2 separate regions of the Homo sapiens genome follow, and region 1 is linked to region 2. Evidence: fine-mapped expression QTL. A gene starts in region 2. The other region holds a variant in brackets. All regions are shown on one strand. Distances are from middle to middle.

Region 1 (5,384 bases), 13 kb before region 2:
ATTAATAGTTAGGTAAAGAAGGATGAGGAACAACCACATTATGGTCTGAATCCCTGCTGTCCCAAATCCACCCACAAGAGAAACTAGGACAGCAGCTGCATCTAGAGCCTGCTAGGGTGCTTATCCCTCCTAACAATGTGTATGTGTAGCCAGGAGGGAAGGAGCCAAGTGTTCTTGAAGGGATCCCAAAGTCAAAGGCCTGGTTCAAGGAATAAAGGAGGATATGAAGTAGGAGACTACAAAGCCAAGCTGGAAGCAGGTCAGTAGCAGGTCAGAAACCAGAGAAACAGGAGCTGGGAAATTACAGTTGACCCTTGAACAATGTGGAGGTTAGGGGCACCAACCCCTCATGCAGTTGAAAATCCAAGTATAACTTTTGATCCTCAAGAACTTAACTACTAATACCCCACTGATGGCCCAAAGCCTTGCCAATAACATTAACAGTCAGTTAACACATATTCTGTATATTATATGTATTATATACTGTGTTCTTACAATGAAGTAAGCTAGAAAAAGAATGTTATTAAGAAAATTACAACAAATATAGTTATTATTCATTAAGTGGAAGTGGATCAGTCATCAAGGTCTTCATTCTCATCATCTTCATGTTGAGTAGGCGGAAGAGGAGGGGGTTTGTTTAGCAGGAATAGCAGAGGCAAAAGAAAACCCATGTATAAGTGGACCAGTGCAGTTGAAACCTGTGTTGTTCAAGGGTCAACGGCACTGCTAACACATGAGACGCCCAGGACATCCTAATGAAGATAGGTGGACAGGATTGGAGAAACCAGAAGATTCCATAATATTCTTAAATACATAGATGCCTACTGCTCAGAACCACCTATCCTAGAAGTATTTAGAGTTTTCTGCTTATAAAGAATGAAATAGACCAGGTGCAGTCACTCATGCCTGAAATCCCAGCACTTACGAGGCCAAGGCAGGCAGATTACTTGAGGTCTGGAGTTCGAGACCAGCCTGGCCAACATGGCAAAACCTCCGTCTCTACTAAAAGAACAAAAATTAGCTGAGCTTGGTGGCATACACCTGTAATCCCAGCTACTCAGGAGGCTGAGGCACAAGTATTGCTTGAACCTGGAATACAGAGGTTGCAGTGAGCTGAGATTGCCACCCTGCACTCCAGCCTGGATGACAGAGCAAGACTCTGTCTCAAAAAAAAAAAGAATGAAATAGAAGAGTTTTATAGCCCCTTTATCAGTTCAGTGGTTTAAAAGTGTTCTGTGGCTGGGCGTGGTGCCTCACACTTGTAATCCTAGCACTTTGGGAGGCCAAAATGGGCGGATTGCCTGAGGTCAGGAGTTCGAGCCCAGTCTGGCCAACATGGTGAAACCCCATCTCTACTAAAAATACAGAAAAGTTAGGCAGGCGTGGTGGCATGCGCCTGTAATCCCAGCTACTCTGGAGGCTGAGGCAGGGGAATTGCTTGAACCAGAGAGGTGGAGGTTGCAGTGAGCCAGATTGTGCCACTGCACTCCAGCCTTGGTGACAGAGCGAGACTCCATCTCAAAACAAACAAACAAACAAAACAACAACAACAACAACAAAGTGTTCTTTATGTCAGTCATGCTGCAGTATGAAATTTTGATACTTATACGTTATGACAATATGTTACTTTAAAAAGTATATCTTCTCTGGTATTTTCAGCTACTGTTATTGTTTTGGGATATAATATATCAGACAAGAAGTATTTAACCAAAACCCAGCTGACAATTTCAAAATGTTCTAAAAATATTTATTGATATGTTGATAATGATTCCAGTAATAGTGATTGATATCATCAATGTTAGCATCAACATTGTTCAGTAACAATAGGATCTGGTCAAATGTGATATCTGTGTTATGAAAAGCTATACATGCATACTTCAGAGATAGTGTGAGGCAGTTCCAGACCAAAGTAATAAAGCAAATATTACAATAAAGTAAGTCACTTTTTTTAGTTTCCCATGGCATATAAAAATTATACTTAGGCTACATTTTAGTCAAGTGTGCAATAGCATTATGTCTAAAAAACAATGTACATACCTTCATTAAAAATATGTTATTGCTAAAAAATGCTGTCACAGAGGCAGGAAGTGAGCATATGCTCTTGCAAAAATGATGCCAATAGACTCACTCGATGAAAAGTTGCCACAAATCTTCAATTTGTAAAAAACACATTCTTCGAGAAGTGCAATAAAATGAAGCGCAATGAAACAAGTGTGTATGGTGTGTGTGTGGGGTGGTGTGTGTTCAGAAAGATAGGAGTGTGCAATGGCAAGGAAACTCAATTTAAAGCAAATTTGGATTGAGACCAAATATATAGTAATAGAATTTGCATTATTAAATAAAGTATTGACATTGACTCATACTCGTAGAAGTCTATTCTCATTATGATGA[T/G]AGCTACTCTTTCTTCCATTAGATTGATGAATTGCTGAAGGAAGCAAAAAGTAAATTCATCTCAGTAAGTGAAAATCATTTCATTGAGCATGAATTTTTGGGGTCCAGCCCCATACTAAAATAGTCACAAGTTGAATACCAAATGGTCTCTAGCCTAGGCCATTCTCAGTCAAAGGCAAACATACAACGCTTGTTCAAAGGAAGAAATATTATTACCTGAAATTTAACAAAGATCTTGGAAAATATTTAAATAGGCTAAAGCGACTTGTAATTTTTTTTCCCCCGAGTAGGCATGTTGTTCTGAAAGCTCTCCGGGCTGACATTGCCTGTTTACTTATTGATTGCGTCTTTTTCACTGTGCCAACAGCATTCTAGCCTCAGGGATCATTTTCCAATGTAGCTTTTTAAATGTTTTTAATTAGGACATTGTAATGGATTAAAGGCAGGCAGAGACTGAAAAGTAGCTACCTTTCTACACACACCTTAGGCAAACACACACTTCAAAAACATTCCGTCCGCCCCCCTCCCCCCGCCCCCCCCCCACCCCAAGTTTCAGTCTCCCTGTTGCTGCCCTGCCCCTCTCTCTTCAAGAACCCTTGGTTTCGGTTGTTGGAGTTTGGGGGCAGGGTGAAAAATCAATCATCCAGCCCTCACCTTCCAGTTCCACGCAGTTAAGAACTTGGCAAAATGAGCAAGCAGAGGATCAAAGCGTGGTATCAGCTTTAGCAGTGGTAAAGCTGGATTGGATAACACTACACGTTCCAAGCACAATATCAGCTTTAGGTAATGGGCCAGAGAGCACAGGGTTCTTTATTAAACTGCAGGAAATGCAACTGGACCCACTTCCCTTCTGCTCTATGTCTGCACTGGGGACTCACTGGACCAGGACTTATTAGCCATCTTGAAGCAGAGAAGCAAGAACGAAAGACCCAGCAGGACCCACCTGTAACGAGCTGACTACATGGGGACAAAGACAGGCATGTACAGCTCCTAGGAGCACTTGTGAGGCAGGAGAATAGGGTCTGGAGGCAGGGAATGTAAGGCCAATTCACGCTGACTTCCTAGAACTAAATCAAAAGGAAAACCCCCACTTTCCACGCCCAAGTGCCCAAGTAACAAAAGGACCAGAGGCTACTCCCTTTGCAACACCCCTCACCTGCCACCCTTTTTCTGCATTGCAGGTGAAAAACTGAAAGTCCCTCTGATTGGTCCCCTCTCACAACCAATCAGGTTGGTTGTGGGCCAAGTCTTCATTTGCGTGGGAGTATTACTTTGTAACTTCACTTCAGCCTCTAATTGGTCACTTTCCACAACTAATCAGACGTTTGCATTCTGATTGGTCCCTTCCAACCAATCAGACTGATCACAGGCCACTACTTCATATACATAGGGTGTACACCAAGTAACCAATGGAAACTTCTAAAGGGTATTTAAACCCCAGAAAGTTCTGTAACTGGGCCCTTGAGCTGCTTGCTCGGCCTGCTCCCACCCTGTGGAGTGTGTTTTCATTTTCAATACATCTCTGCTTTTGTTGCTTCTTTCTTTTCTTGCTTTGTTTGTGAGTTTTGTCCAATTCTTTGTTCAAAGCGCCAAGAACCTGGACACCCTTCACTGGTAACACTTGGGTCTGAGAGACCTAGAGAAAAAGAGAAATGACTCATGAACACTTAACTTTGTCAGGTAAAGAAACCTGGCAGAGTGGGTATCAAGTTTTCCCCAGTCTCACCAATCAGAAAAACCATCTTTCTCCCAAGAAAAGAGATGAGTGAGCAGGGAAGGGAGGGGCTGTAGTACTTTCCCCAAGAAGGCCATAATTCTAGATACACATGGAGAAACAATTATATTCCATTTATCCACTAAAAATAATACACAAGTTTTATTTTTCCCCCTTTCATATCAAGCACTGGTTAGAGATGACCCAGAAATCCAAAGATGGAAAGAACTTTACTGAGGTAAAGTTTATTTATGTTCATCATTTGGATGATATTAACCCTCTTTTTCAATCGGAAGCAAAGGATTTTTAGATGGGTTAATTCAGTCTCTCTGAGGAGCTGATACAGTTTGCTGTAAATGTGTTTTGCTTCACAGACAATAGTGCTGTGATGGAATGGTTGGTCCATGAGTCTGTGAATAAATGAATAAATCACACACCTGTTAAATTGTGTGCTGCACATAATCAAGGGGTTGTGATGTTGTTTTTTTTTAAAGCAAAAATGTTGCTTCTCTCCATTTGCTGCTCCTAAACAATTTCTAAATGTAGTGTCTTGTATTTTCCCCATTTAGTGAAGTTCAAAGTACTTCATGGTGCTCACACATGTGAATTCTAAATCTATGTATTGTCCCCATCAATTCTCAGAGTTGCAAATATAAGCACTGTGATTTGGCATAGGAGCAAATTAAAATATACCAACATTCTAATCCTTCCCCAGGTCATATTGTAAGTCAGGGTTGGAGAAGTAGGAGTGATAGAGTCTGAAAGGATACCATGAAGCATGCCACTCACCTGGGCAGGCACCCCGTGGGAGTGTATAAGGATGTAGGATTCTGGAGGAACCCACAAAAGTCCTGGAGCCTTAGGCTCCAATTCAAGAACACCTACCATGAATGACATCTCCATGCCAGGAACGTGACCACTGTGTCCACTGGCCAGGCCAACAGAAGGAGGAAACCATGAAGCTGCTGGGTTTTAAAACTTATGCATGGATAGCTTCCAAGCTCTCAGTTGTATCATGTAGTTTTAAAAAAAATGTCCTCTTCCTGAGTGGGGAACTGCAATCCATTATGAATGAAGACACTGCATTGTTATCTAAGTAGACAATAATGACAATATTGATTTTTATTTACTTTGTACCAATTATCTCCCAAAATATTCAGAGAAAAGGGTACAGACTCTGATGCTTCAAATTCATGCTCCATATTCTAGTTGTTTGTCATTGGTCAAATGACTGAGCCTACCTGAATTTGTTTACTAAACCAAAAAAAGGGGAGGCATA
Region 2 (5,384 bases):
GGAGACCCTATCTCTGTTTCTTCAGGTGGCCCTGTGGGTGTGAAAGAACAAACTTCTGGGCAGGCATACACCAGTGGTACACCAGCGGTACACAGGAAGACACCCCTCCCAGGAAACAATACCTCTGCCTCTGACACTTCCGGGAGCCTTGTAGCCACAGGAATCAACACATGTCTCTGCAACACTTCAAATTAACTCAGGCCTCAACAAGGCAGAGAGGGGTGTAGCCATACAGGCATGATCAGGGCCAGCTTATCACCATTCACTGGGAGACTGGCTGGAATGTGGATGTGCCGAGTGAAAAGTCAAATGTCTGCCTAATAGCAGAGCCCTCCACTCTGAAACACAAATGGCCCACTACATTCCTCACTCATAATTTTTAAAAATTTTTTAAAAAAATCTTTTACCCTAATGTCCAGTAGGCTATTGAACACTAGCTATCAATTTTTTGCCCTATGCCCTACAGTTAAAAATAAATGGCCAGGCAGGGTGGCTCACACCTGTAATCCCAGCACTTTGGGAGGCTGAGGCGGGCAGATCACAAGGTCAGGAGATCGAGACCATCCTGGCCAACATGGTGAAACCCCGTCTCTACTAAAAATACAAAAATTAGCTGGGTATGGTGGCATGCCTGTAGTTCCAGCTACTTAGGAGGCTGAGGCAGGAGAATTGCTTGAACCCGGGAGACAGGTTGCAGTGAGCTGAGATCATGCCACTGCACTCCAGCCTGGGTGACAGAACGAGACTCCATCACAAAATAAACAAATAAATAAATGTGTGTGCATAAATATGTACACACATATACATATGTATATTTTATATACACAAGTATTTGTATATCTAAAACCAGTTTCACAAAACAGTACCCTCATTACATGCATAGCTCAAATTTTTTAATTTCTTTATAATCTAGTTATCTTAATAACTTTTTAAAATGCTGGTTTTGACCTAGAGATTTTTAACCTTGTGTGTGTGTGTATATGTGTTTGTGTGTGTGTGTGTATCTGTTTGTGTGTATGTGTGTGTGTGTATGCATGTGTGCACGTGCCATTTCTACCCCATGTGATGAAGCCTATGGATCCTTTCTTGTAGTGTTTTTAAATGCATAAAGCAAAACTCTTAGGCTTACAAAGGAAATCAATGATATTGAAATACAATTCTATCCTTGGGCCTCTTGTGGGGAAAGGGCAGTGTCCACAGACCCAGGTTAAGAATCTCTGCATGGGTAAATTGATTTCCCAGCTGACTGCTGAGCCACAACCTGCAGTTTGGAAAATAAGGCTGTACAAAGCCTCAGAACATTTTGTTGTAGTTAAGTATTTCAGATGCTTATTATCCTGTCACGGTTTTAACCCTCTTTTCCCTCCCTTTCCCCATGCTCCCTCTATCCAGTCACCCACACCCCACCACATGCACATGCATGTGTACTCACTTACATGCATGCACATATATGTTGCCACATATCCACATACACATAGGCACACACATGCACAGGCACACACATGCAGATCTTAGGTCACATATCTGGAATGAGATGAGGCACTAGACCACTGGGTCCAGCCCCTCCTGTGACCCCAGTCCCACTCCCTGACTGCCTCTGTGTCACAGCTCCTCTGGCTCCTGCCTCAGAACTACTCTAGTGGCTCATTATCTCTGCAGGGCAGCGCTCACCATCACGACTTTCTTGTTTTCTTTCACAGCATTGTGAGCCAATAGGTGCATTCTGCCTCAGAATAGTGGTGGAGACTGGTGGTGGCACAGCCCAGAGCTCTTGACGTTTATTTTCTCAGGCTTCAGTGAACCTTCTGTGGCAGGTGTTTCCTTTTGATAGGCGGCAGTTCCTCCCTGGGTCACTCCAGCCTGCAGCTGAAGCCCTCACTTAGCTCACTGTGGCTGTACTGAACACACCACCTCCCAACATGGAGCAGCCTAGCCAGGGGGTGCGGGAAGGAAAGATGGTTGCTGCCACAAATGAATGACTCAGCTACCTTCTCCAATGGTTTGATATTGACGTTTCCTCCTGTCATAGCAAAAATGCCCAGGTGAACTGTTTTCTCCATCGCATGTAGAAAGATGATGGTTGTCTGAACTGGTTCCAGGTAATGGACAGTGGTAAGCGCTCCCTTCTCTTATAGTATGTTATGGATTGAAGTGTGTCTCCCCACAAAAAGATATTACTGGAGTCCTAACCCTGAATATTTCAGAATGTGACCTTATTTGGAGATAGTGTGTTTACTGAGGTAATCAAATTTAAATGAGGTCATTACAGTCTCTAATCCAATAAGACTAGTGTCTTATAACAGAAACGAACGCTTACAGAGGGAAGACAATGTAAAGAGACACATGGAGAAGATGGCTGTATTTCCATTCTCATGCTGCTATAAGGACATACCCAAGACTGGGTAATTTATAAAGGCAAGAGGTTTAATTAACTCACAGTTCAGCATGGCTGGGGAGGCCTCAGGAAACTTAGAATCACGGCAGAAGGGGAAGCAAACACGTCCTTCTTCAAGTGGTGGCAGGAAGAGAACTGAGTGAGTAAAATGAGGAAAGTCCCCTTATCAGATCTCCTGAGAACTCACTCACTTTCACGAGAACAGCGTGAAGGTAACTGCCCCCATGATTCAATTACCTCCCCCGGGTCCCTTCCATGACACGTGGAGATTATGGGAACTACAATTCAAGATGGGGTTTGGGTGAGGACACAGCCAAACCATATCAACAGCCATCTGTAAGCCAAGGAGAGAGGCCTGGAACAGATACTTCCCTCGCAGCTCCCAGAAGGAGCCAATCCTGCCGACACCTTGATTTCAGACTTCTGGCCTCCAGATTGTGAGACAAGAACAGCAACTCGGCCTGTGTTCTCTGCCCTTGAGGTTGAAACAGGGAGCAGAAGGTTTTTTTTCCCCTCTGTGTTGCAGCATGGAGTTCTGAATGACAGATGAGGGGTTGATCACCCTCCACACCCATGCTAAGCCTTATGGCTTCACGGGGTTCAGGCTTCCTGTGTTCAGTCTTCTGTGTTGCCAGAAAAATTTGCATACTCCCATGGACAAAGAAAGCAGCAGAGGAGAAAGAAGAGCTTTCATTCACTTCCTCTTTGGGGTGAGAGCAAGTCTGAATGCTCTAGAATTGATTCTATTAGAAAAACTCTCTGACCCCAAATATGAATATTTTCACCACACCCAATACTCATAATTTTAAAAATAGATCTTTTGAGTTTCATCCTGACTAGTAACCTAAAGATCACTGACTTCTGATTTATTTTTTTATCATGCTCTACAGTTAGAAATGCAAACATATAGACTAGAGAGGGCCACAGAGGTGTTTGATCCCATCACTTCATGTAGGTAGGAAGATGTTGAACCCCTGAGAGGGGTCGGAACTTGTCCAAGATCACACAGCAGGCAGAGTACATCAGGACCTCAAACCCATATCTTCTGCCCTCTCCTCCTAAGGTCTCCATCACTAACACCCTGTCACGGTCCATCCTGCTAAGGAAGTCTCTACTATAAAATCCCATACCTTGAAAATTAATTGTTTTTCCACTCACACGTTACCACCCTTCCCTCCTGCAAACATTTGGAAGTTGAAAGGTCGCACAGCCTTCATGAAATTAACCAGAAGAATTGAAAGGAAGCTGATGACAAAAGTACTTCAAAATCTGTTTTTCATGAAAACAGCTTTTTCTTTTCCCCCTCAGATCAAACTGAATTTTTCTTTTTATTTTTGCGGTATTCTTCTAATTGTGCCTTTTTAAATGTGTTTGAAATAGTTCTTTGTTTCTGTAGATTAATCACCTTTCAATGCTCTCCTTTTTTAAAAAAAACAAAATTTTAAAACTTTTAAATAAAATTTTCATTTGTTAACTCTCAGTCCTTCTCCTTTATCATAATTCACTTTTCCTATCATGTTCAGTGAATTATACAATTAATTACTTTTTCAGCTTGCAAATGGTTTGCTATTGTATATGTCATGTTTTCTTTTGGATGAGAAAACACTTATTTCACACAATAGTGCCATTGCTTTTATTATTCTTCCTGTCACTGAGAGGGGGGAAAGACCAAGAACCAAACAATAAGACTTTTATTTACAGCTACTGGAAAGCTGTCCTGAAGGTCGCTACAAGCCTCTGCCATTGTGTGCTTCCATCTTGGACATGCCATCCGAGATGCCTAGAATGGCAGGGGTCTTCCAGAGCATGGAGTCTTATCTCGTTTCACAGTTGAAGAAACTGAGGCACATAGGTCCTCCCAGGGCCATGCAGCTACCTAATGCCAGATCCGGAACTAAACTTCAGGTTCTTGACTCCCAACCCACTGTCTTTTCCACTGCCCAGAAAATCCCAGGAATTCTTTCCAAGCTCCCTGAATTCATCCCAAGCTAGTGTTGCAATCCATTTGCTTTTATCTCAGCAGCGTTGGAAAAAAGGGGCTGTCATGAATCCTGGCTCAATAATAGGAGTTTACATAATAATTTGCATAATCTGGTTGATTAGTTTCATGTTGCGCCAGCTCCAGCCTTCAAGTCATCTTCATAAGTTCTTTCGTGTATCAGAATCCAGAAGCTGTCAGGAGGAATCTGCACATGGGCTTGTGGGGGTAAGAGGATGGGATCTGGTGTCAGACCTGGGCAAGTTATTAACCTCCCTCTGCCTCCACTTTCCCTGATATAAAATAAGGATACTGAGAGCATCTCTGTCATGTTGCCTTTTTTCAGGATTACATGAAAAAAAAGTAGGCTTAATATTCATAACAACTCAATAAATATTTATTATTCTTGCTACCAATGAGGACATACTATTTGATAGGGGTTTAATAAAAGTTTATAAGGAAATATAAAACCGTAATTAGTGCAACTGCAACAGTTGTGGTGTGGTGCAGTAGAAATCATTCTGGGCTATGAATTGGGATATCTGAGCCCCAGATTCAACTTCACCATGAATGAGCTATGTGGCCAGCAAGGAGCTGTCTCTCCTCTCTCGGTCAGTTTCTTAACCAACAAATCTAATCCTAATCTCCAAATGGGAGAGAGGAACTCCCTGAAAAGTACAATTTAACTGACTCACAACCTGTCAAAGCTACCCAATCTTACAGCAGAAGAAGGGGAACCCCTGCCAAGAATTATTGTCCCCTGCTCAATGAGGAAGGTGATTCCTTGGTCCGCCTCCATGAGGAAGATAATTGTTGGGCCATCACTCTGAAGCATCCTGGCCCTAAAGCAGGAATAATTCCACCCTTGCCTTCATGGGAGCCACCTGCCTGAGCTCAAGCCGGAGAAAGGAGCAGATGAACAATGAATGTCACAGCAATTCGTTTTGGCAATTAGGCAGGCAATTAGTTCTGCAGCATGTAGAATGGGAGGAGAAAGTAAATCAGCACTGA

What was found. PIP is the estimated chance that this variant, and not a neighbour inherited with it, causes the effect.
Region 1: its variant is the best candidate, but not a certain one, in a credible set for the expression of LINC01215 in whole blood (INTERVAL, PIP 0.69).

Annotation. Positions count from the first base shown.
Region 1 is chr3:108,134,957-108,140,340 of GRCh38, reverse strand. LINC01215 (long intergenic non-protein coding RNA 1215) reads right to left here. Exons shown (of 2, transcript NR_110030.1): 2 at 1,731-4,027. Among named protein-coding and RNA genes, the nearest start is that of LINC01215, 13 kb to the right of the region's middle. RefSeq lists an enhancer at 3,629-3,768. The variant T/G (reference allele first, on the strand shown) is at 2,392.
Region 2 is chr3:108,122,196-108,127,579 of GRCh38, reverse strand. It overlaps LINC01215 (long intergenic non-protein coding RNA 1215), which reads right to left and starts at 2,516. Exons shown (of 2, transcript NR_110030.1): 1 at 2,438-2,516. It overlaps LOC105374031 (a long non-coding RNA gene), which reads right to left. Exons shown (of 8, transcript XR_007095997.1): 8 at 4,434-5,384. RefSeq lists enhancers at 1,504-1,603, 2,104-2,183, 2,404-2,453, 2,734-2,873, 2,944-2,993 and 2 more.